Regions from separate parts of the Homo sapiens genome. Here all the other regions are reported to be linked to region 1. Evidence: microRNA targets listed by miRTarBase, many of them from high-throughput screens and not tested one by one. Region 1 holds a microRNA gene; each other region holds the end of a gene's coding sequence.

Evidence for each region. The annotated mature microRNA hsa-let-7a-5p reads UGAGGUAGUAGGUUGUAUAGUU and lies in region 1 at 4,430-4,451, opposite strand. An mRNA with a match to its seed (bases 2 to 7 or 8) in the 3' UTR can be bound and repressed. Matches are read on the target gene's strand: a 7mer-m8 pairs with bases 2 to 8, a 7mer-A1 pairs with bases 2 to 7 and ends in A, and an 8mer does both.
Region 2: the mRNA of ATP6V1B2 is a reported target of hsa-let-7a-5p. The part of its 3' UTR that is shown has no 7-base or 8-base seed match.
Region 3: miRTarBase lists NIPBL as a target of hsa-let-7a-5p. The part of its 3' UTR that is shown has no 7-base or 8-base seed match.

What each region holds. Positions count from the first base shown.
Region 1 is chr9:94,173,137-94,180,412 of GRCh38, reverse strand. It overlaps MIRLET7A1 (microRNA let-7a-1), which reads right to left and starts at 4,456; the gene lies at 4,377-4,456. MIRLET7A1HG (miRlet-7a-1/let-7f-1/let-7d cluster host gene) reads right to left here. Exons shown (of 5, transcript NR_170278.1): 2 at 4,448-4,548; 3 at 492-593. MIRLET7F1 (microRNA let-7f-1) reads right to left here and starts at 4,066; the gene lies at 3,980-4,066. LINC02603 (long intergenic non-protein coding RNA 2603) reads left to right here. Exons shown (of 3, transcript NR_160773.1): 3 at 2,682-3,844. It also overlaps MIRLET7D. RefSeq lists an enhancer at 1,119-1,168.
Region 2 is chr8:20,219,566-20,226,841 of GRCh38, forward strand. It overlaps ATP6V1B2 (ATPase H+ transporting V1 subunit B2), which reads left to right. Exons shown (of 14, transcript NM_001693.4): 14 at 698-2,131. The coding sequence ends at 837. Among named protein-coding and RNA genes, the nearest start is that of ATP6V1B2, 26 kb to the left of the region's middle. RefSeq lists an enhancer at 4,589-4,688.
Region 3 is chr5:37,064,210-37,071,485 of GRCh38, reverse strand. NIPBL (NIPBL cohesin loading factor) reads right to left here. Exons shown (of 47, transcript NM_133433.4): 47 at 5,073-6,959. The coding sequence ends at 6,594. Among named protein-coding and RNA genes, the nearest start is that of CPLANE1-AS1, 180 kb to the left of the region's middle.

The DNA.
Region 1 (7,276 bases):
CTTGAGGCCAGGAGTTCAAGACCAGCCTGGCCAACATAGTGAAACCCTGTCTCTAATAAAAATACAAAAAATTACCTAAATCCTGTCTACTCTACCCAGGAGGTGGAGGTTGCAGCAGTGAGCTGAGATCACACCACTGCACTCTAGCCTGGGAAACAGTGAGATTTTGTCTCAAAAAATAAAATAAAATAAAAAAAAATACTACTGTTCATAGTAGTTGGAAAAAGATGGAATGCTAATGCACAAATTCGTCTCATTCCTAGAATGATAAATGCTCAAACTAGACTAGTGAAATGAGACATAAGAGTTTTTACAAGGTAGTGTCTGCCTGAGCAAACTCAAATAATTACTCAAGTAAAGAAAGGAGGCTGTCCTGGCCAGCACTTTGGGAGGTAAAAGCCAGAGGATAATCAGGAGTTCAAGACCAGTCTGGGCAATATGGTGAAACCGTCTCTACAAAAATAAAATTAGCCAGGCATGGTTGTATGCACCTGTAGTCCCAGTTACTAGGAAGCTTGAGTCCGGGAGGTCAAGGCTGCAGTGAGCTGTGATCATTTCACTACACTCCAGCATGGGTGACGGAATGAGACCATCTCAAAAACAAAACAAAAAGGAGGGTGATCCTGAGCAGTTAATTGTCTGTACAAAGTCACACAAGTGTTTACAAAAATGGAAGAGCTGGAAATTGCTCGTGTTAGCTTTATTAAAACATCTGTAAATGACCATCCAATCACCAAATTATTGCTAATGAAAAATGAAACTAAGAACAAATCATAATAATTACAAATGAAAAATGCATCTACTACTGCAAGGATGGGGATAAGGGTTAAGGATGACTTAAAAAGCACTAGTTTTGAAGTATGCAGTGTTTTTATTGAAAAGATGTATAACTTTTAACAAAATATGTAACACTATTACCCAGTCAAGACAACCACTTTCATTTTATTGACCTTCCAGTTCTTGTACATATTAAACAGACAAATCACTGTTACATACCATAATGAGCAGCAGCTCAATTACCCATTCCCAAACCATGCAATTCCACCCCAGCCGCCCCAAATTTTAAATCCAGAAGACAAACCTAGAAAAGCAGCAAGATAAATATTTACAAACATTGTAGAAAAACAGCAGTATTTCAAGTTTTGTTAAATTCTTTCCTTCAGACATAATGTAGACATAGAGGAGGAACAGCTGAGAGTCTCTGCATCACAGAAAGAGAAACCTGAGCAAAAACAAAACCATGCTTTCTAAACTTTCCAGTGACACCAAAAGGGAGACACTAGCAACTAAGTGTACTTCAGAAGTCTCAAATTCTCATTAGTTGACTTTCAGTTATCAATGTCAGCACCATGCTGCAGTTTATAATCACTAACGCAAACACTGCTCTCTTTGATATTCTTGCAATGTTTTCATTTGAAAAAACCTACAGAAAGAACTCTGCTTACACCAAAGCAAAGTAGCAAGGAAACAGGTTATCGGTGAATAATAAGGCCCTAAGAAAGGCAGCAGGTCGTATAGTTACCTCCTTGTGGGCAAAATCCCTGCCCTAAAACTATGCAACCTACTACCTCTTCCTAGGAACCCATTTTTTTTTTCTTGCTGGTCTTCTACTTGGCAGATGCACTTCAAATTAACCTGTTAAATTAGGTCATGTTCTTTGAGTTTTGTTTCTAATTCAAACTAATCAGAATTCTTTAACTAATGCTTTTGAAAAGTTATCTGGCCATATGACCTTGGTAAAAAGCCACAAATACATTTGCTTAAAATCCAACCTCAAGTCACAAACGAACAAGAAAGTAATGACATCAGAGGATGTAAGCCAGTAGTCTAATACTCAGCCCACCACGTATTACTGGAGTCGCTGACTTTTAACATTTAATTATCAATTTTTTTTTTGGACAGTCTCGCTCTGTCACCCAGGCTGGAGTACAGTGGTGTGATCTCGGCTCACTGCAACCTCTGCCTCCTGGGTTTAAGTGATTCTCCTGCCTCAGCCCCCAGAGTAGCTGGGATTACAGGCGCCCACCACCACGCCCAGCTACTTTTTTGTATTTTTAGTAGAAACAGGTTTTCACCATTTAGGCAGGCTGGTCTCAAACTCCTGACTCAGGTGATCCGCCCACCTTGGCCTCCCCAAAGTGCTGGGATTACCGGCATGAGCCACCACACCCGGCCTAATTTTTGTATCTTTATTAGAGACTGTGTTTCACCAGGCTGGTCAGGATGGTCTTTAACTCCTGACCTCAGGTGCTCCACCCGCCTCAGCCTCCCGAAGTGCTGGGATTAGAGGTGTGAGCCATGGTGCCCAACCCAGTTACCAACATTTAAATATCAAATTTCATAAAATCTCCAGTCTCTCCTGTTAACTGGAAAAGTAGGTGACAATGTATATAAACCCTGCTTGCTACCTATCAACCAGAGCAAATTAATTTACTATATTTGCCAGTTACAACTAGCCCCTCCTGGGCCTCTGATGGTATTTCAGTTTTTGACCCCTGAATTAAAGCAAACAGAAACAAATTCTGATCATGAATTTTATCATCATTAAAAACAAGCTTTCAGAGATAGTCATTCTCTCCATAAAGGCATTTTTAAAGTTTTATTTCGATTTACTTACTCTGCTTAGCTAATAACAATGTCCTTATGTAATTAATAAAATATATAAATTAATTTTTCTCCAGGGCTTAATTATTAGATAAGGATACGTTTCCAACTGAAGGTGGCAACGTTATGCTGGAAGAACATGTCAGGAAGACCACAAAATTTCATGACTGTACTTGCTACACTTTCAGCAGAAGAGTTATACATATTTTCAATTCAACAAAGATTAAGCCAAAAAGAATTCTTAGAACATTCCCACTCTTCTTTGGCACATCAAAAGGCAACAAATGTCATTTTCTCCCATGTTTTTATGTGCAGTTTAGAACAAAGACCAATTATCTATGCAGCTGTCCACAGTGGATAAAACAAAAAGCATACATTTGGTCCAGAGTTAAGTCACCTGGGTTGGGCCCATCCAAGGAAGTTTGATGTTTCTACTCTCATGAAAAGTACCAATGGCACTGCACAGTGATTATCTTAGATATTAAGGATAAACACAAATTTCTCCTTAAATTTCCATTTATTGGAAATGATTGGAGGGAGGGAACTTCTCCCTCACCTCCACACTGCCTCTTTTCCAACTCTTCTTCCAACACAAAATAGTTTAAACAGCAAGCACTTAGAGAGCTTTTAGCCTTGCTTGTTGATTACAAGGCCCAAGTTAGTGTATGGTTTGCCCATCGGAGGAAAGCTAAAACATGGGCCTTCATGGGTATTAAAATTGAAGAAACCTTTTCCAGCATTTTTTCTATTTTCTTTAAAGTAACAACCTATGGACTTCCCCATCTGACATTTTCGAGTGATCCCACTGTGTGAATGAAGGACTACTTCAGGGTTTGAGGGCAAAGCTGAAATCTTAGCAACTTACCAGTGAGCAAAGGTAGAACCCAGAGCCCATCTCTCCTTTTCCAGGCTGCTGAGTAAAGTCTGGCTCAATCAACCTATCAATGAAGCAGTGCTTACAACATTCTCCAAGACCACCCAAAACCCAAACTGGAAATGAATCATGACTAATCTGACTCATTTTGGCTCACACAGTGCCCTTCCAATTTGTATTTACCTTTACCACCCAGGACCTGACCTTGGACATGTGTACCAGGATGTAAGGCAATAAACCTATTCACAATTCCAAAAGGGCCTGGTCCTCTATGAAGATTTCCTGAAGGCTACTTACTTTCTCTACTCATTAAAATTTTTGCTTAACTTCAAATTTCTGAAATATACCATATGTGAAAAATTTAAATGTTAATCTGTGCCTACTGTACTACTTGAACAGAGAAAATTAACTGATAAACTGTAAATACAAAATGTCAAAATTAATTCTTCTGAGTTTTAATATCATCTAAATAAAAAGAAAATAATGCAGCAAGTCTACTCCTCAGGGAAGGCAATAGATTGTATAGTTATCTCCTGAACAGGGTAAAATCACTACCCCACAACTATACAATCTACTACCTCACTCTGATAGAGCAATGTTTTCTTCTGGAATGGAAAGTACAATCTCTTTCGAAAGAAAATTTCAACATAAAATTATCAGCATAAATCAAAATAAAAAAATACATTTATTCTGACACAGAGAAATAAGACAAGAAGCAAAAGGTTTCCCCACCCCCATCCAGTGTACTTGCTACAGACTTTATCTCTAAATTAATTTATTTCCAGGCCATAAACAAATGCTGCACTACATCTCTTTAAGACAAGTTAATCTTAAATATTGTACAATTAGTTAACTGACTTTCTATCAGACCGCCTGGATGCAGACTTTTCTATCACGTTAGGAAAGACAGTAGATTGTATAGTTATCTCCCAGTGGTGGGTGTGACCCTAAAACTATACAACCTACTACCTCATCCCACAGTGAAGAGAACATCCAGGGTGAATGGTGAAAAGGAATCACAGTTGAGCACCACAGGAAGGCTTTTTTTCCTCCTCGGTAATCCTGGTTTCCTGTGTGAGTGATAAGAAAAATAGTATTAGACCATTTTCATTCACTTACGTTGAAAATGAAGTTTAACTGAACATTTTGGCTACATGCATAATCTATGCTGTGGTTTCATTTCCTGTATTTCATTAATAGTATTTTAAATGCTTGGTTATCTGAATCCGCTCCTAAAACCATGTATTTACAAGATTCAGAAATCACCCTCTTACCACCACCTTTTACTATTATTAACTGCTGGTTTTCTTACAGTTCCTACAAATGAAAATGCATGAAATAACTTATCCTTCAAGAAACAACAAAAAATCATTACAGAAAAACATGACAGCCTCTAATTAAAAATCCAATGACTTCAAAACCCAAAAGTCCTGTACATCATGCATAATCCAAATGCACTAACATACAACGAGATAATATAAAAAACACACACAAATAGAAACTAATTTTTAAAGGAACCTACTCATTTATCCCATGCGAGCAAACACTAAGTGGTCTTATTAGGACTAAATCAAAGATAATCACCTGGATCTGATTCAGGGTCAGGATCCTTTCCTTTAGATAGAAAGGTAATATGTGGATTGAAGGCAGAGTCCAAAATCTTTAATAAACCCAAGTAATCTAAACTGTATTATTACCCTTTAATTTACAGACTTCATATTTAGGAGGTAGCTACTACGAAGATTATCTTTTAAGATAGGGACTAAATTTATTTTGTAGTGATTTAGTAACCAAAAGCACTAATTTTTAAAATTACAAAACGTAATAAAAAACATACGGCTCAATATAATAGAATTTAAAGTCTAGAAATAAACCCATACATGGGTCAACTGATTTTCAACCATGACAAGACAATTCAACTGGGAATCGTTTTTTCAACAAATAATGCTGACGGCTGTATAGCCACATGCAAAAAAAATGGATCTGCATTCTTTGTAAACTGGTGTGCAAAACACACATTAAAGTAACTTAAAACAACCTAATTTAATGGTAAAATATTTTAATAGATATTTCACCAAAGATATGACTCATAAGCACAAATGGCCAACAGGCACATGAAAAGATACATTATTCATTAGGATGGCTAATAAGATTAATAAAAGTGTTGACAAGGATGCGGAGAAAATTGGAACCCTTAGATTGCTGGTGGGAATGTGAAATGGTGCAGCTGCTTTGGAGAACAAAACTTGTAGACAAGTCAAACAGTTGTTAAGTGGAATCAGAAACACGTATTTCGTCTTTGTCTCCATTTGAAGATCCTGGCTGGCATACAGCTCCTAAAACCCTCAGAATTTCCTAAGTGATGAATGTCTGTTTAATGCTACTGAGTCGATTGGTGGCTCCTGTAGTTTCAGGAGGGGGATAGTCACCAGAAAGACCAAGGTGTGATTAGAGGGGTGGAACTTTCAGCCTCACCCCCTCAACCTCCAGGTAAAGCAGAGAGGACAGAGAGTAAGCCAATCATCAAAGGCCAATAATGTAATCAATCATGCCTAAGTATGAAACCTCCATAAAAACCCCTTAAGTGTCAGGGTTTGGACAGCTCTGAGTTGAAAAACACATCTTCATGCCAGGAGGCTGGTGTAACCCTAACTCCATAGATACAGAAGCTCCTGTGCTAGGAACCCTCCTGGACTTCAGCTTAAGGACCTCTTCATCTGGCTATTCATTTAAATCCTTTATAATAAACCAGTGATAATGAGTGTCTTCCTGTGTTCTGTAAGCCATCCTAGCAAATTATAGACCCAGTGGAAGAGGTTGTGAAACCCCCTAATTTATAGCTGGTTGGTTAAAAATTCAGGTAGAAACCTGCATCTGAAGCGGGGGCAGTCTTACGTGTTTGAGCCCTCAACCTGTGAAGTTTGTACTAACTTCAGGTAGTTTCAGAATTAAATTTAATTGTAGGACACTCTGTTGGTGTCGAGTTGAAGAATTGATTGTTGGTGTCAGAACTGGTTAGTGATGAGTAAAAAACAGTTCACCATATGACCCAGCAATTCCATTTCTAGGTATATACTCTAGAGAACTGAACATGGCTGGGTGTGGTGGTGCAGGCTTATGGTCCCAGCTGAGTTACTCAGGAGGTTGAGGCAGGAAGATTGCTTGAGCCTAGGAGTTAAAGGTTGCAGTAAGCTATGACCACACCACTGCACTCCAGTCAGAGCAAGAGAGTGAGACCCTGCCCCTCCCCGCAAAAAAAAAGGGCAAGAGAATTGAAAAAACGTGTATTTGAATGTTCACAGCATTACTCATTTGGAGTCAATAAAAACCAGGGTTCAAATCCTGGCCCTACTAATTCTCTGCCATTGAAATCTTGCAAAAGAAATTTAGCCGAAGTCCCTCAGCTTTCCTAGCTGCAGTATCAACACGTCTGTAACAAAAAGGGAAAGATTTATTAATACCATATATCCAAAATATGTAAGGTCCAACTACTTCATCATCTCTAGATGAAAACTGGTGGTAAGAAGCTTAATAACTTGCCCCAAATTAGAGACAGTACTGCATCACTAAACTATACTACATTTGAGACCATTTCAATTCTACAAGGCCAGGTTATGCAAACTAGGAACTCACAGACACACTTGTCCCTAACGTCAGGCCCTTTATAAGCCAAAATATTTCCCATGAATCAGCACTGTCCTTACTTTTATTTTTTTAGAGACGAGGTCTTGCTCTGTCACCCAGGCTGGAGTGCAACCGTGTGATCTTGGCTCCTGAAACCTCCGCCTCCTGGGTTCA
Region 2 (7,276 bases), not on the chromosome of region 1:
CACCTTTCCAGTTATATGATACATTATTAATATTCAAATCCCCAAAATATTCATGATTATTGGAATTTTTTTAATGCAGAACCTGAATATCTTAAACAAAATAAAGTTTTCCTCTAGAGAAAAGAACCCAGACCTCCAGCCTTGGACTCAAAGAATAAGATTTATTTGTGGGGATAAGGATGATTCTGCCATCAAAAATAATTTTAACAACTTGGGAAACCACTGACCTTCAGATAGTGATACTCTGGAGAGGGTTGCATGTATTCAGGTGCTTGACTGGCATTTATGTCCTTCTGAGCATCTGTGTTAGTCGCCTTCAAATTCAGCCTTTTCTCTTTGTGTGAACCTTCTGTGCTAGGGAGACTTTTCTTACTAATCTCTGGACAAAACATTGATTCTAGTTTCCATTGCTCAAGTATCCTACCCAGTTGTCAAATCTCAGATCTGTCTCACCATCCTCTCCCGCAAGACTGCTCCCTGTCTCAGCCCAGCCGCCTCTTCCCTCTTCTCTGGTTCCTTATGATACTCACTGTCTGTGCCTTCTTTTCCTCAGTCCTTCTCATTTAGTCTTGGGAGTCCCAACTTTTTTTTTTCAATATCTATTTAATACACTGCTAGTCATATAACAATACATACTGGATAACACTGCTAAGTTGGAAGTCATTTGCATTTATTAATTCAATCTCAATTTTTTAAGGTCCTTACGAAAATCGCACTGTCTTTGAGACTTTGGACATTGGCTGGCAGCTACTCCGAATCTTCCCCAAAGAAATGCTGAAGAGAATCCCTCAGAGCACCCTCAGCGAATTTTACCCTCGAGACTCTGCAAAGCATTAGCTGCTGCTTCTGCATTGCTCCGCGCTCTTGTGAAATACTGGTTCTGTTTTCTTTATTCCTTTTGCACTCTCGGTTCCCACCTTTGTGTTGGAGTTTACCATGTTACCCTGTAATTAAAAACAAAGAATAGGTAACATATTGTGCCAGTGTTGCAACGTTTTAAACTGCTAACAGACCTTAAAATATCCCCCTACCTGGGTCCTCAGTGCTATGTTTAAAGTGCTGCAGGGATGGAGTGGCGTTTTCTTATTGCTGTATGTATTGTACATAGTGGAGTAGTTAGTTACCTGATAACAGTCTTGTTATTTGGGTCTCTTAGACCTTACCTCTCAACTCCCTCAAGAGTACCAGTCTCTGAAGTTATAATGCTTTGGTCTCTACATTAGGGGCAAGATCCAGTCTGAGAGAAGTCTCCTTTGAGAAGGGCCAAGAGGCTCTTTCCTGAGTGTTTGCTTTCGGTTTGTTGGTATGCCTGTATTGCTGGGCTGTGCTGCTGCTCGAAGCAGATGGTTTTGACTGTCTTTTTGCTCTTTCCTATATAATGAATAGATGAGTGAAAGGAGTTTTCTTTTTCTCTTTAGTACTTACGTATTGGGATTCCTGTGTCTTACAGCTCTCCCTCTCCAAATAATACACAGAATCCTGCAACTTTTTGCACAGCTGGTATCTGTCTGGTAGCAGTGAGACCCCTTGTCTTGGTGATCCTTACTGGGTTTCCAAGCAGAGGAGTCACATGATTACAATTGCCAGTAGAGTTGTTGTTTGGGGTACAAGATGAGAAGAAAGAAAAACCTACAGCCTTTCTACATTCTGACATGCTAACAGTGGTTTAAGTTTCTAAAGTGTTTACCAGATGCTGAAGGCAAGGGGAGGGAGCAGAAGCACTTATGTTTACGGATATTTTAAACTCTGTTAGAGAGCAGCCTTTGAAAATCCCCAATTTGGTTCTGCTTTTTGACCTCTCTCTACCTTTTCAGGGTAATCTTTGTGGCACAAACGATAGCATTTCCAAGCTTTAGAGTTTTCTGAATTCCTGCGCCTTCCTGACGTGAGCCCTGAGCGATCTTCTATGCAGTTCTGCCATGCGTCCTGTTGGTCTCTCTGTGTTCTTTGTTACTTGGGTGCAATAGCAACTTCCCTACCCCGTGCATTCCATCTTTCATGTTGTGTAAAGTTCTTCACTTTTTTCTCTGAGGGCTGGGGGTTGGGGGAGTCAGCATGATTATATTTTAATGTAGAAAATGTGACATCTGGATATAAAATGAAAATAAATGTTAAATTAAATGGACCTTAACTAAAGTGACTCTCTATCTTCTAACGAGGAAAGCAACAAGCAAATATGTAATCACACATCTCTTCAATTCACAGCTCTGAGCATCATAACCAGGATTGGGAACCAGCCCTTGTGTTGCAGGGACATGGCTTCCACACTGCCCTTGTCATTCTTTTTGGTACTGTCCCTTACAGCATGCTGTAGTTTGATCCAGGGCTGAGCATTCCTACAGGTGCTCCCCAGCGTTCCTCATTTCAGGCCTAGTCAGGACCTCTAGAGCCCATCTGCTGTGAGCAAAAGAGGGTGCTAAATAGTGAAATACAGCTTGAAGCAAGCCAAAACCTGTTTCACATAAAATCTCACATGGATGTCCTGTATATATAGAAACCTGGTGAAAGCACAGGGCATGCTGTCATGGAGCCTCCCATTTCTCCCCACTCCAGTTCAAGGCAGCTTTCAGGAGATGGAGAGGAAAAAGCTTAATCATAAGAAGAACTGGGTAGACCTGAGTTCTCTTTCGGATTCTACCAGTACTATATGGCCTTGCTTAATCATTCAACAAATTCGAGTCTGCTTGTCTGCTTGTATGCCTTTTAGGGTTGTTGTAAGGACTGGAGATTTTTGTGTGTAAAACACTAGGACAGTGCCTGGTCCATAGCAGGCCACTGTTACTAGTAAACCTTTTTTAAGATGAATTTGCCTTATTACTGTTACATAATACTTAGGAATTGTTGGTTATATAGCACTCTTGTTAGTTTGTAACTTATTTTTTAGTGAAAACATTTTCTGAAGGAGCCTTTTTATACCAGAATAAGACCTAATGAAAAGACCTGCTACGAAGCCAAGTGTCCTCAAAGGTCAGGCTAACTAAAATGACTCATTCGGCATTTATTCTTGCAGTTGACTGCCACTTCATTGTGTAAGATTTCATGTAAGTGAAAAAATGTTTTCAGACTAATGTCATAAATACCTCGCTAAGATGTTTTATTTTCAGCAAGTGTGAGGGTACAAATCGTCTGAGGTCAACAAAGCATCCTCTGCTCTTGAAATTTTTTGTTACTATCATAAGGGCAAGTTAGCTTAATTCAGTATTAGGAGCCAACGGAAAATAGTTCCCCAGACTACATTTAAAATAGCATTTAGAGACTACAACAAGAAATACTTGGCAAGGCAGTTCTTGAGGGAAAATTATCCTTTGTGGGAAAACTTAAGAAGGAAGTGGGTTTTTTTAAAATGAAACAGTCATGTTCCTTACTCAGCTACCAACTGTAGTTTTATTTCAAGCCATTTTTCCAGTTTGGGGTTGAACACCTGCCTCACACTCAGGCAAACCTTGTGGTGTCCCCAGCTGCCCCCTCCTCCATATGAAGCCCTGCAGTGGTAACAAGGAGCGGGTGACTGATATTTGGAAACAATGAGAAATCACTTCCAGTCACTAATGGGTCACAGAGCTTTGTATCCTGAGCTAGTGGCAAAACTCGTCCAGAAAACTTAGTAAGTGTTTTTCAGACACGTGTGAAGGCTAGGAATTGTGGGACCCTCCCTGAACAGTCTGCCACATTTCTACTTAAGGGAAAAGCAAAGCATCTGACCATGGCTATCCCTGAGGCTGAGGCACACATGAACAATGCCTAGGTCTCCTTTGTAGGAGCCTGAGGGTGCCTAACCTAGAATCAAGCCCGTGGCTGTTTGCTGTGGTTAGCAGCTACAAGTAGTGCACATGTGATATGCCACTGTTCTCCACAGAATTTCATCTCTAAACTCCTAGAGCATTTTCTAAATCCAATAAATTACAGCGTTCCAGGTACCAGTGGTCATGTAGCCCTTTATCCACAGATGCAACTGGAAAATGACTCGTCCAGGGTCACAAGGGAATGGCAGAACACGAGCTGGAACCTGGGTCTTTAAGCGTGGGCTAGTGCTCTTCCCACAGCACAATGTTAACATCCAAAGGCCACTCCACACATCAAAATGGTCTTCACAAATGTCAATCTCGCTAGAAACCAGGATTTTGTATTGTGGCTAAAGTTCCATATCCTGGTGGACAGAATGGTAGCGTGAATGTAAACCAAAGGCCCTGACTGTCTGGACCTAGGAACTTCAGGGCTCACACTAAAAAGTTAAGCTTAGGGCTCACACTAAAATGTTAAGCTTTTAGGGGAAGGTAAGATGGGAATGTGTGTACAGACAATAGCCTCCAAATGCATCTAATTTCTTTTCTAAGCAGTCGTATTCTTCATTTCCACAAGAGGGCAGCAGCCCCTGAATGGTGTGGCAGTGGCTAAACACTGAGTTCTAGAAACAGACACTTCCGGATCAGTGACTGGCAGTCAACAGTTCACTGAATCAAATAGTGCTTTTTTTGGGGCTGCATGTTAGCCTGGGGACTGTAAGGGAACATGCTCTGATAAAAATAAACTGAAATCGGTGTAAGGAGCCCTGTACTGTGGAATTGGGAGGTCAGGGTAGAGAGATGGCAAGGATGACCTGGTCCAGCCCTTTCCTGATAACTGAAGGGCTTTCTGAGCATCTGAAGCAGTGAGATCCAGCTTCTGGTGAAGGTGGGACGGTGTCAGGAGGCAGTCTACTCACAGATGGGCATCTCTGGTCGTTGGAATAATCTTCCTAAACCAAGAAACTTGCCTCCCTCTAACTTCACGGAGGGGTATCCTTGGGCTGTCCCCTACGGCTCTCCCAGGTGTTTACCCTCTACCATTCTGAAGATAGTTGGCCACTTCTAAGTCTTCAGTCTAAATATTTCTAGTTCGCTTAACCATCCCTCCCTTTATGAGTTAGGGAGTTACTGATCTCTCTGGTAACTGAACAGGTTTAGAAGTCAGATCTAGCCTCCTCCCATAGTACTTTTGTTATTGGGTCTGTGTTGTCCATAGAAAATCTTCTCCAAAATCTAGAGGCTCAGCTCATGGAAACCAAGGCCTCTCCCAAGCGGGAAGCTGGAGCTGGAAGCGAGCACGGACCATGGGCCTTGAGACCAACTCACAGAGGCTGGGACTCTGATTCAAGCTTAGGTTGCTGGAAACCTCAATATACTCTGACGTAAGACATTCTATTCTCTGGTTCTACTATACTTTTCCCCAGGATCTACTATTCAGTCGCACTCAAGTGTGGCCCTAGCACCAAGGAAGCTTCATTAGTGATTTACCTACTAGATGTTCATTGTTCAGATAAAACTTGGAAAGTGCAGGTAAGCATGAAGAAGAGAGTTCCATAATCCTATGACTTTGAGGAAATTTAACACTTTATCATATAGAACCTTTCAACAATCATGACTTTACCACCTGTGGCTTTGCCCTTCTGTCTTCTTAAGCCAAAGCCCACGGCAATTCTGGCTGCTTTCTCCTGAGGACCACATATATATAAGATTATGGGAATCATGTCAAGAAGAGATGTGTTTAAGGTGTAAACTTTCAGTACATGAGATTACAAAACAGCCGTGTGGTTTAATCTGAGGGCTCCGTTGAAAAACAAAAATAATTTCCAAATAACAAAGTTCTATTGAATTCCTTAGATTACATGTGCCATGAGGGGAATTGTGGTCCTTTAGCAGTACTTCTCAAAAGCCCCTTTCTTCTTTTTTTTTTTGAGGTGTCTCACTTTGTCGCCCAGGCTGGAGTACAGTGGTGCGATCTTGACTGACTGCAACCTGCAACCTCTGCCTCCGGACTCAAGCGATTCTCTTGCCTTAGCCTCCTGAGTAGCTGGGATTACAGGTGCGTGCTACCACGCCTGGCTAATTTTTGTATTTTTAGTGAGACGAGGTTTCACCATGTTGGCCAGGCTGGTCTCGAACTCCTGACCTCAAGTGATCCACCTGCCTCGGCCTCCCAAAGTGCTGGGATTACAGGCGCGAGCCACTGCACACAGGCAAAAGCCCCTTGCTTCTCATGGGTCTGCTGTTGTTTCCTTCAGCCACTTTGGTTTTCAGGGAGGGTTCAGGAAACCATCCTCCACTGTGCTTCTTTCTGGCCTTTGCTACCCCTGTTTCCCATCAGGAGACCCCAGGAACTGAAGTGGCAAGGGTGAATCCTGTGAGACGATGAGGAATGAGACCAGGCTGAAGTGTGAGATGCAGTAGCCCTCCTCCACCTCCACCAGAAGGCAGGGGTGGAATAAGAGCTGAAAGGTTTGTGTGCACATTTCTGGGTTATCCAGAGAGGGAGGGAGAGAGAGAAAGAGAGAGATGGGGCCTAGGTGGTTTACTTCTAAGTGCTTCAACAACCTGTGAAAATACCAGGGAGTTATCCATGCGTTTTGCTAAGGATTCTGAAAGATCGACATGAGTGTGGAAGATATATTTTAAGCCAATAAGGGCTGGCATGAAGAAATGTAATAACAGATTAAGTCTGCATACCCTGATTACAGAAGAACCCGCCTTAATAGATGATGACCGAAGCACAGAATGTGCGCTGAACCATTGAAGGTGATGCAGAGAAGAGTTACGTGTGTGTGCGGGCGTGTGTGTGTGAGTGGGTGTGTATTTAACAGCTTTACTGCAATATAATTCACATACCATCTAATTCACCCACTGAAAGTGCCATTCAGTGATTTTTAGTATAGTCACAGAGTGTGCAACCATCACAATCAATGTTACAACATTTTCATATTCTCTCCCCACCCCCAAAAGACTGTACCCATTAGAAGCCACTCTCCATTTCTCCCCAACCCTACCAGTCCCGGGCGGCTACTGATCTTTCTCTGTCCATGGATTTGCCTGTTCTGGATTTTCTTTTTTTTTCTTTCAGACGGAGTCTCATTCTGTCGCCCAGGCTGGAGTGAGTGGCGTGATCTCAGCTCACTGCAACCTCCATCTCCCAGGTTCAAGTGATTCTCATGCCTCAGCCTCTCGAGTAGCTGGAATGATAGGCGCGCACCGCCATGCCTGGCGAATTTTTGTGTTTTTAGTAGAGACGGGGTTTCACCATGTTGGCCAGGCTGGTCTTGAATTCCTGACCTCAAGTGATCCACTCTTCTCGACCTCCCAAAGTGTTGGGATTATAGGCGTGAGCCACCGCGCCCGGCCTGTTCTGGATATTTCTTATAAATGGAATCATACAGTGCTTCTTTCAGTTAGCATAATGTTTCCCAGGTTCATCCAGGTCATAACACATAATCAGGCTTCATTTCTTTTTATTACCAAATAATATT
Region 3 (7,276 bases), not on the chromosome of region 1:
TTGCAGATCACTCCAATCTTCATCCCTACTGCCATCATCCTCCTAGTTCAGTCTCTATTTCTGAGACTATTGCATTAGTGTCCTCTTCTTGACATCCTTGTCTTTCCCCTATGTAGCAGAGTGATCGTTCATCAATCCCTTGAGCCCTTCAACTGCCTATACATTAAAATGATCAAATTATATTACTACATTACTAAAGTTATCAAAATTGCATACTTATCTCTCCTTTCTATGGCTTCATCTTTTGACATTGTACTACACGCACGCCAGCTCCTCTACTCACTATGCTGCTCCCACTTTCAGAATTCCATCCCCCATCTCCCCACTTAACCCAGCATTCTGATTCTCTCTCTCTAATGTGTCTACACAAAACCTAAGTATAGATTTCTTTAAATAAGCTTCCACAAAATAAGCTAAGTGATTTTGTTTACATTTCATTTCACACTTGTTTCAGAAACCCATGGCTTTGTCTATGGCTATGACTATGTCTTCTGACTTCAAAGTTAATACTCTTTTTCACTAACCTAAGTTTTAGTCTTCTACATCAAGCCAGGTGATGTAGAAATAATTAAAACACAATAAAATATCACATTTTCCCTTTTCTACCTAATAGGATGGTAGGCATCACAAAATCTGAGAACACAAAACGTGGATCTTTTGAAAAGGTATAGAAAAAAAAATCAGTAAAATTTAGTCATTAAGTAGCCTACATTCAGATCTTAACAGGAGACTGAATAAGAACTTCCCAAGGTTAAATCTTCCTTATGGGAGATAAGAACCCAGTTTTGCTTTTGACTCTAGCAATAAGTAGGTATGCAGCTTGGTGATATCAATTCACCTCTTTGAGCCTTAATTTCACCTTCTTAAACCTGTAGTCATTCCATAGATTCCCAAGATAGGCCAAAGACGGAAATGGGATGGGGATGTCCATGAACCCCTTGAAATTTTATGCACAATTCTGAATATGAACTTATTCTATTTTCTAAGGAGAGAGATTTCTCGGCTTTCATTATATTCTCAAAGGGGTTAGTAAATTCCAAAGTGATTAAAAACTTCAGATTATTTGCCATCTCTCATATGACTGTATAAATATTTTTAAAACTATGGAATTGGAGATCCATTATTGGTTTAAATTTTATAACAAACTTAGACCATAATAACCTTTTTCTGTTCTTTGCTCCAGGATTTAAATCTAGTAAGGTTAAGGCTAAATTACAATTCTAGGCATGTTATAATCAAGAAAAGCTTACTCTGGTATTTCTTAGCAGAAGAAAGGTCAATGTAAAGGGTTTGATAAAGCAACACTAACTTTTCATTTTAAGTTCTATGTGATTGAGATTTAAACAATGACTGAAAAAAGTCACAAAAGGGCAAAATTCCATTCAACAAAAACTGTAACACCCTGAAAGCTGTATCATTAAAAAAATCATAGCCTGCAGTCAACTTATTTCAAGCAGTATGTATTACAAAATTACTGACCAACAAAAGGAACTCTGATTATAGGGCATCCTCTGGCATCTAGTTCAGCTTCCATTTCCTTACTTTAAATCTCTATCTCCAACTGCCTGCTTGGTTATTTGCCAACTCCAAATCAAAGGATTAATCAATGCTTATCACCATCTTCCTGAAAAGTGGACCTATCTCCGTACTTCATTACCTCTGTAGTGGTACTCTGTTCTAGTTATACAGGCTCAAGCTACTTATGAATTTGAAAGAGATCCAATATCTCTCAAGCCTACAATAACTTCAGGTAAGAAAACTGATTAAAAATCAGAAAACAACTAGACTCTCCATTTAGAATCAACTACTTATTTATTTTTTTTTTGAGACGGAGTTTCGCTGTGTCGCCAGGCTGGAATGCAATGGCGAAATCTCGGCTCACTGCAACCTCCGCCTCCTGGGTTCAAGTGATTCTCCTGCCTCAGCCTCCCAAGTAGCTGGGACTACAGGTGCGTGCCACCACGCCCAGCTAATTTTTGTATTTTTAGTAGAGAGAGGGTTTCACCATGTTGGCCAGGCTGGTCTTGAACTCCTGACCTCTTGATCCGCCCGCCTTGGCCTCCCAAAATGCTGGGATTACAGGCATGAGCCACCGCGCCCAGCCCCTAGAATCTACTTAAGAACCCAAGGAAAAATACTTGTGTTTTCAATATAAGAAATTTGCAAGGAATAAAAAGACATGAGAAAGCCTACAGAAAGGACCTAAAAAATATGACATTTATGAGAAAATAAAAAATTTAAACACTTACTGGATATTTGATATCAAGGAAGAATATTTAAAGATAACCTATTTATGGGGCTGGGCACGGTGGCTCACGCCTGTAATCCCAGCACTTTGGGAGGCTGACGTGGGTAGATCGTGAGGTCAGGAGATTGAGACCATCCTGGCTAACATGGTGAAACCCCGTCTCTACTAAAAATACAAAAAATTAGCCGGGCATGGTGGCGGGCGCCTGTAGTCCCAGCTACTCGGGAGGCTGAGGCAGAATGGTGTGAACATGGGAGGCGGAGCTTGCAGTGAGCTGAGATGGGGCCACTGCACTCCAGCCTGGACGACAGAGCAAGACTCCGTCTCAAAAAAAAAAAAAAAAAAAAAAAAAGATAACCTATTTATGGATAAAATAAAATGATGCCTGAGACTTGTTTCAGAAAGAGTGGAAAGGGGTGCATGGAGTACAGCTCAAATAAATTTGGTCAGAAATTCAGAATGACTGAAACAGAGGAATGGGTAAATGGAGATTCTCTTAAAGTAAAAATAATTTACAAAATTCTTATAAGAAAAATAATTGTGTACACCGTACCACTCTCAGCAGTGAAGCCATATACAATTGGGGTCTTAAAAACGAAGGGTGGCTTGGTACTCACATCATCATGCAAAACACACAGGAACTTTATGACCACTTAGTCAACAGAGTACCAAACTGAATTTGTTTGGTCAGTGACTTTCTATTACACTAAATTTGCATGTAATTGTTTCTCGGCTAGCACCAATAGGACAGACTGTATTTCAGAAAAAAATTCAAGTGAAAAATTAGTAAAATCATTTTGTAACAAATGCTGCCTATGACAAACATTAGCTATAGGACTAAACAAACTTTGGTTTTAAAATGAGCAAGGCAAACAGCAAAAGGTTCAAACACGTAGGATTTTTATGGGGCAAAAATTACTATCAAGTGTTTCAAATTACATTATTTCAAGTGGGTAATCTGATGAGTTTTATATTTGCAAAAGTAATCTTATTCCAATTATCCATATCCACAGTTCTGAAGATGCAGACCACCTGGACACAGGTAGTGACAAGGATGAATTTTTCTGTGCAACTAAAAGTGGTGGGTAGGGGAGGGAGAACCACATACTTCCCTGGTTAATTTATTTCTAAATAAAAATACGGTAAATTTGCTTGCTGATCATGAAATCTGTATTGAACAAACATCAGTTTGACTTACCTGTTTTCATGAGACAGACTATGGTCATAAAAATCACCTGTGTGCTTCAGTTACCTGAATAATTCAAATACTCAACCTATCAACAGAGTAAGCTATATATTTCTCTCAAAAAACTCAGCATTTCTTCCATTAGAGATTACTACATCTAGAAAATTCTAGAGATCACTGAATTTTCTGCCATGTGTATTTTGGTATGAACATATTTTTAAAACTAGCCATTCTTTCTTAATAAACAATTTCAATAAGGCTAAAATTTCATATTAATGTACTTAAAAAGTGAAGAGATACTTGAAAATTTTTATATCAAATATAACCTATCTTTTCAAGTCAATATAACAAGATTAATCTATGGTAATTAATCAACACACTATAGAGTAAGACTGAACTTTCTAAATACTTAATAGAACTTTGTGAATCCCCAATATACTTAAAGTTTGATTTTGTATATTTGACTGCCAAAGCTTTAATAGTGTTAAGACCTAACAATTCATCTTGAAGAATCTTCAACTTTCTGAAAATTTTGGTTTGTATATTTAAGAGTTAAGGCTTATATTAACATTTGGCTTCTATTAACAGATAAAATAGGAGCTTAGAATATATACAAAATTTCAAAACTGATTCCTAAAATTCCTAAATTTCTTTTTCTTTTTTGAGATGGAGTTTCGCTCTTGTTGCCCAGGCTGGAGTGCTATGGCGTGATCTCGGCTCACCGCAACCTCCGCCTCCTGGGTTCAAGCGATTCTCCTGCCTCAGCCTCTCGAGTAGCTGGGATTACAGGTATGCACCACCACGCCCGGCTAATTTTGTATTTTTAGTAGAGACGGGGTTTCCCCATGTTGGTCAGGCTGGTCTTGAACTCCTGACTTCAGGTGATCTGCCCGCCTCGGCCTCCCAAAGTGCTGGGATTACAGGTGTGAGCCACCGTGCCCTGCCTAAAATTCCTAAATTTCTAATGAGTGGCAAACACAGAATTCCATCTATGGCCAACTGAGGCAACAGAAGACTTACTACTGTGTACCTACTTCCTAAAAATTACTCTGAACAGGATTCCCAAGTATGTATACTACAAGGATCCTTTAGGAACTGGTTTACTTCAATAAGGATCATCTCTCTTAATGTCTGATGTTCAATTAGCTTAGAGTAGTGAGACACAATTACTTCAATTCCAGATTTAAATCCCTATCATGACATTAGTAAATTACCAAATCCTTCTAAGCCTGCTATCCTCATCTACAAAATGAGGATAAAATATATAACGAGAGTTTTTGTGAGAATTAAATGACAGCATGCATCACTGTCACGTAAATAGAATTCAAAACTGGCTTTTTACTCACATTTACATTCTTAGTACTCTCTCTGGGCTGGATTTTATTCTTATATTTTCTCTAACCAGTACCCTTTTTGATATATTATTCTCAGAAGTGACCTCAAATCCTTTGTTGATATACATAAACTCCAAGAAGAACCAACCAACCAACCAACCAACCCAATCTAGTTTTGTTCCAGAGTTCACAGTATAAGGAAAAGAGAAACATGTAAGTAAGGGGAACAAAACGAAGAGTGAGAAAACATTTCCGTGAAGAAAGCATTTGAAAGAATTCCACATAGGAAATAGATCCTGAAAAGTTATTTTCATAGTGGTTTAATAGGTGTCACAAAAAGGTATTTTGTGGCAATGTCATTCTTCCTCAAAAATTGAATACCTTCATTTATTTGCCAATTTCATAAAACAGCATTCTGGAGGTCAATTTTTTCAAAGTGATTTAAAAATAAGTAAAACATTTTTAAAAAGAATTAAACTTGAAACAGACCTCATCCACTGTAAATTTTAGGCATTACTATTCCTGAGTGTCAACTATACATATCAAATGATTAAACACCTCCCTCCTGATTTAGTCAAGATATCTGCAGTAAGTAATGTGTAAATGACAACTGTTCCCAAGACTTATGATAAAAGCTTTTAGCATAGATTAGAAAATGAATAAACATCTCAACAAGTAAAATTACTCTTTTCAGCATTAAAAAATAATTTGTGAAAAATGTAGTGAGTGTAATTATGAAGTGTCATATTCATCTCAACTCTAGTTCTAAAATAACCGGACATCATTTTAACCAAGAGAAATGCTGGTTTTCCAAATAACAGGTTACCTTTACCCGAGGTTTAAAGAATAAATATCAGCATCATGACATCACTAGAAAGAAATTGAAGCATACAAGGAATAAACTATAGTTTCTTTTTATATCAAAATGTACTCTTGAAAATGTGTTTGGCACAGTGCTAAATCATATATAGTTAATACTAAATATTGCAGGATACAATAAAACCCTGGAGTTAATTGTTTACACCCTCTTATGGGAATGAAAATAATAGATACCAATTATTCAGAAGTCAGCCTATACAAACTGTATAAACAATATTTTATGTTTTGCTTTGAAAACCAGTGATATAATAAATTTTACATAAAAGACTGTAAAATAATATAAATGGATTTAAACAGATTTTTACAATAAGAAATTCAAATGGAAACAGACAAGTAACAAAGAGAAGTAAAAAAATTTATTGCAGTATTCGCTCCACCAGATTACCTGGGGATCCCTTTTCTTGTATTGTTTTCAGGGTGACCTAATACATCAAAATCTACATTTACAAAAACTCCTTCTGCAGATAGGTCATAGATACTGCATGCTTTTTTTTTTTTCAACAGAATAAATTATATATCCAGGAGATTCTGCCATTTTACAGCCTGGAAAAAACAATGCTTCCCTGGAAACTGGGCTAAGCTAAAGAAAGCCATCCGCTGCTAGGTTAAACTCCAAGAACACTTTATTAAGAACATTAACAGACTAATTTCCAACATTCACTTGTTTATTTTTTTTAAACAGAAAGTTTTTTTTCCAAGATATAAACAATTTTTGTTAAACTATAATACAGTGGGAGTAAAAATGAACTGAGAATCTGTTTCTGCTGCACAACAGCGAAGGGAGCTCCCACAAAAATGTTTGCCCAACATTTCCTTCTTTTGTTCCTGCATCCCAGGTTCCACTTACTCTTCATAAAACTGATTTTTTTTTGCCAGAATGTTGGTATTTCAAGTTTTTCTGCCTTTTAAAAAAATTCCTGTAAATTTGGCTGCATGTACAAATTCATTAGCTGGAAGTCCCATCCTTGGCGGCATACAGGGATCGTAAAGTCTGAACAACTTTATTAGTCAGCTTATTAGCACTCGTTAGAGCAATTTTTTTGTAAATAATGTCTGACTCTTTAATAGTGTCTACCCAAGGCACCAGTTTGCGGCCATCACGGCGCTTAGCCTCAGTCCAGGAGCCACTGTAGGAGCCTGCCATCCACTGAACACTGAAGCCACTGCTGGTTTTCTGCACTACTCTTGCAATTTGTGGTCGATCTTTGTACTTTGGACAGCAAATAGCGATGACATCCATGACGTCAACACTTTCATTCATCTGTGCTGCCAACTCCGTAGAGTCTGAATTTCGTTTTGACCTTCTCAATGACTAAAACATTGGGAGGGGGGAAAAAAGACCAAGTGTTACACAAAAGAATTTTAGTGAAATTATTGTTTTTATTGCTTTTAATCCCTTGACGCCGGGAGTTGGGATTTCCCGGCACACTTCCATTGCCGGCAATGAGACGCACCGTGACCGCCAGCGCCAAGGGGTTAACATATACTTGTAAAACCATATAACTCTTAATTTGTACCCGTGTCTTTACTCTTATTGATATATAAAATTATATATACATATGAACCATATAGCTACATAAAACTTAGCAACAATAAAAATAACACACATTAATACAATTCAAAGAAAAA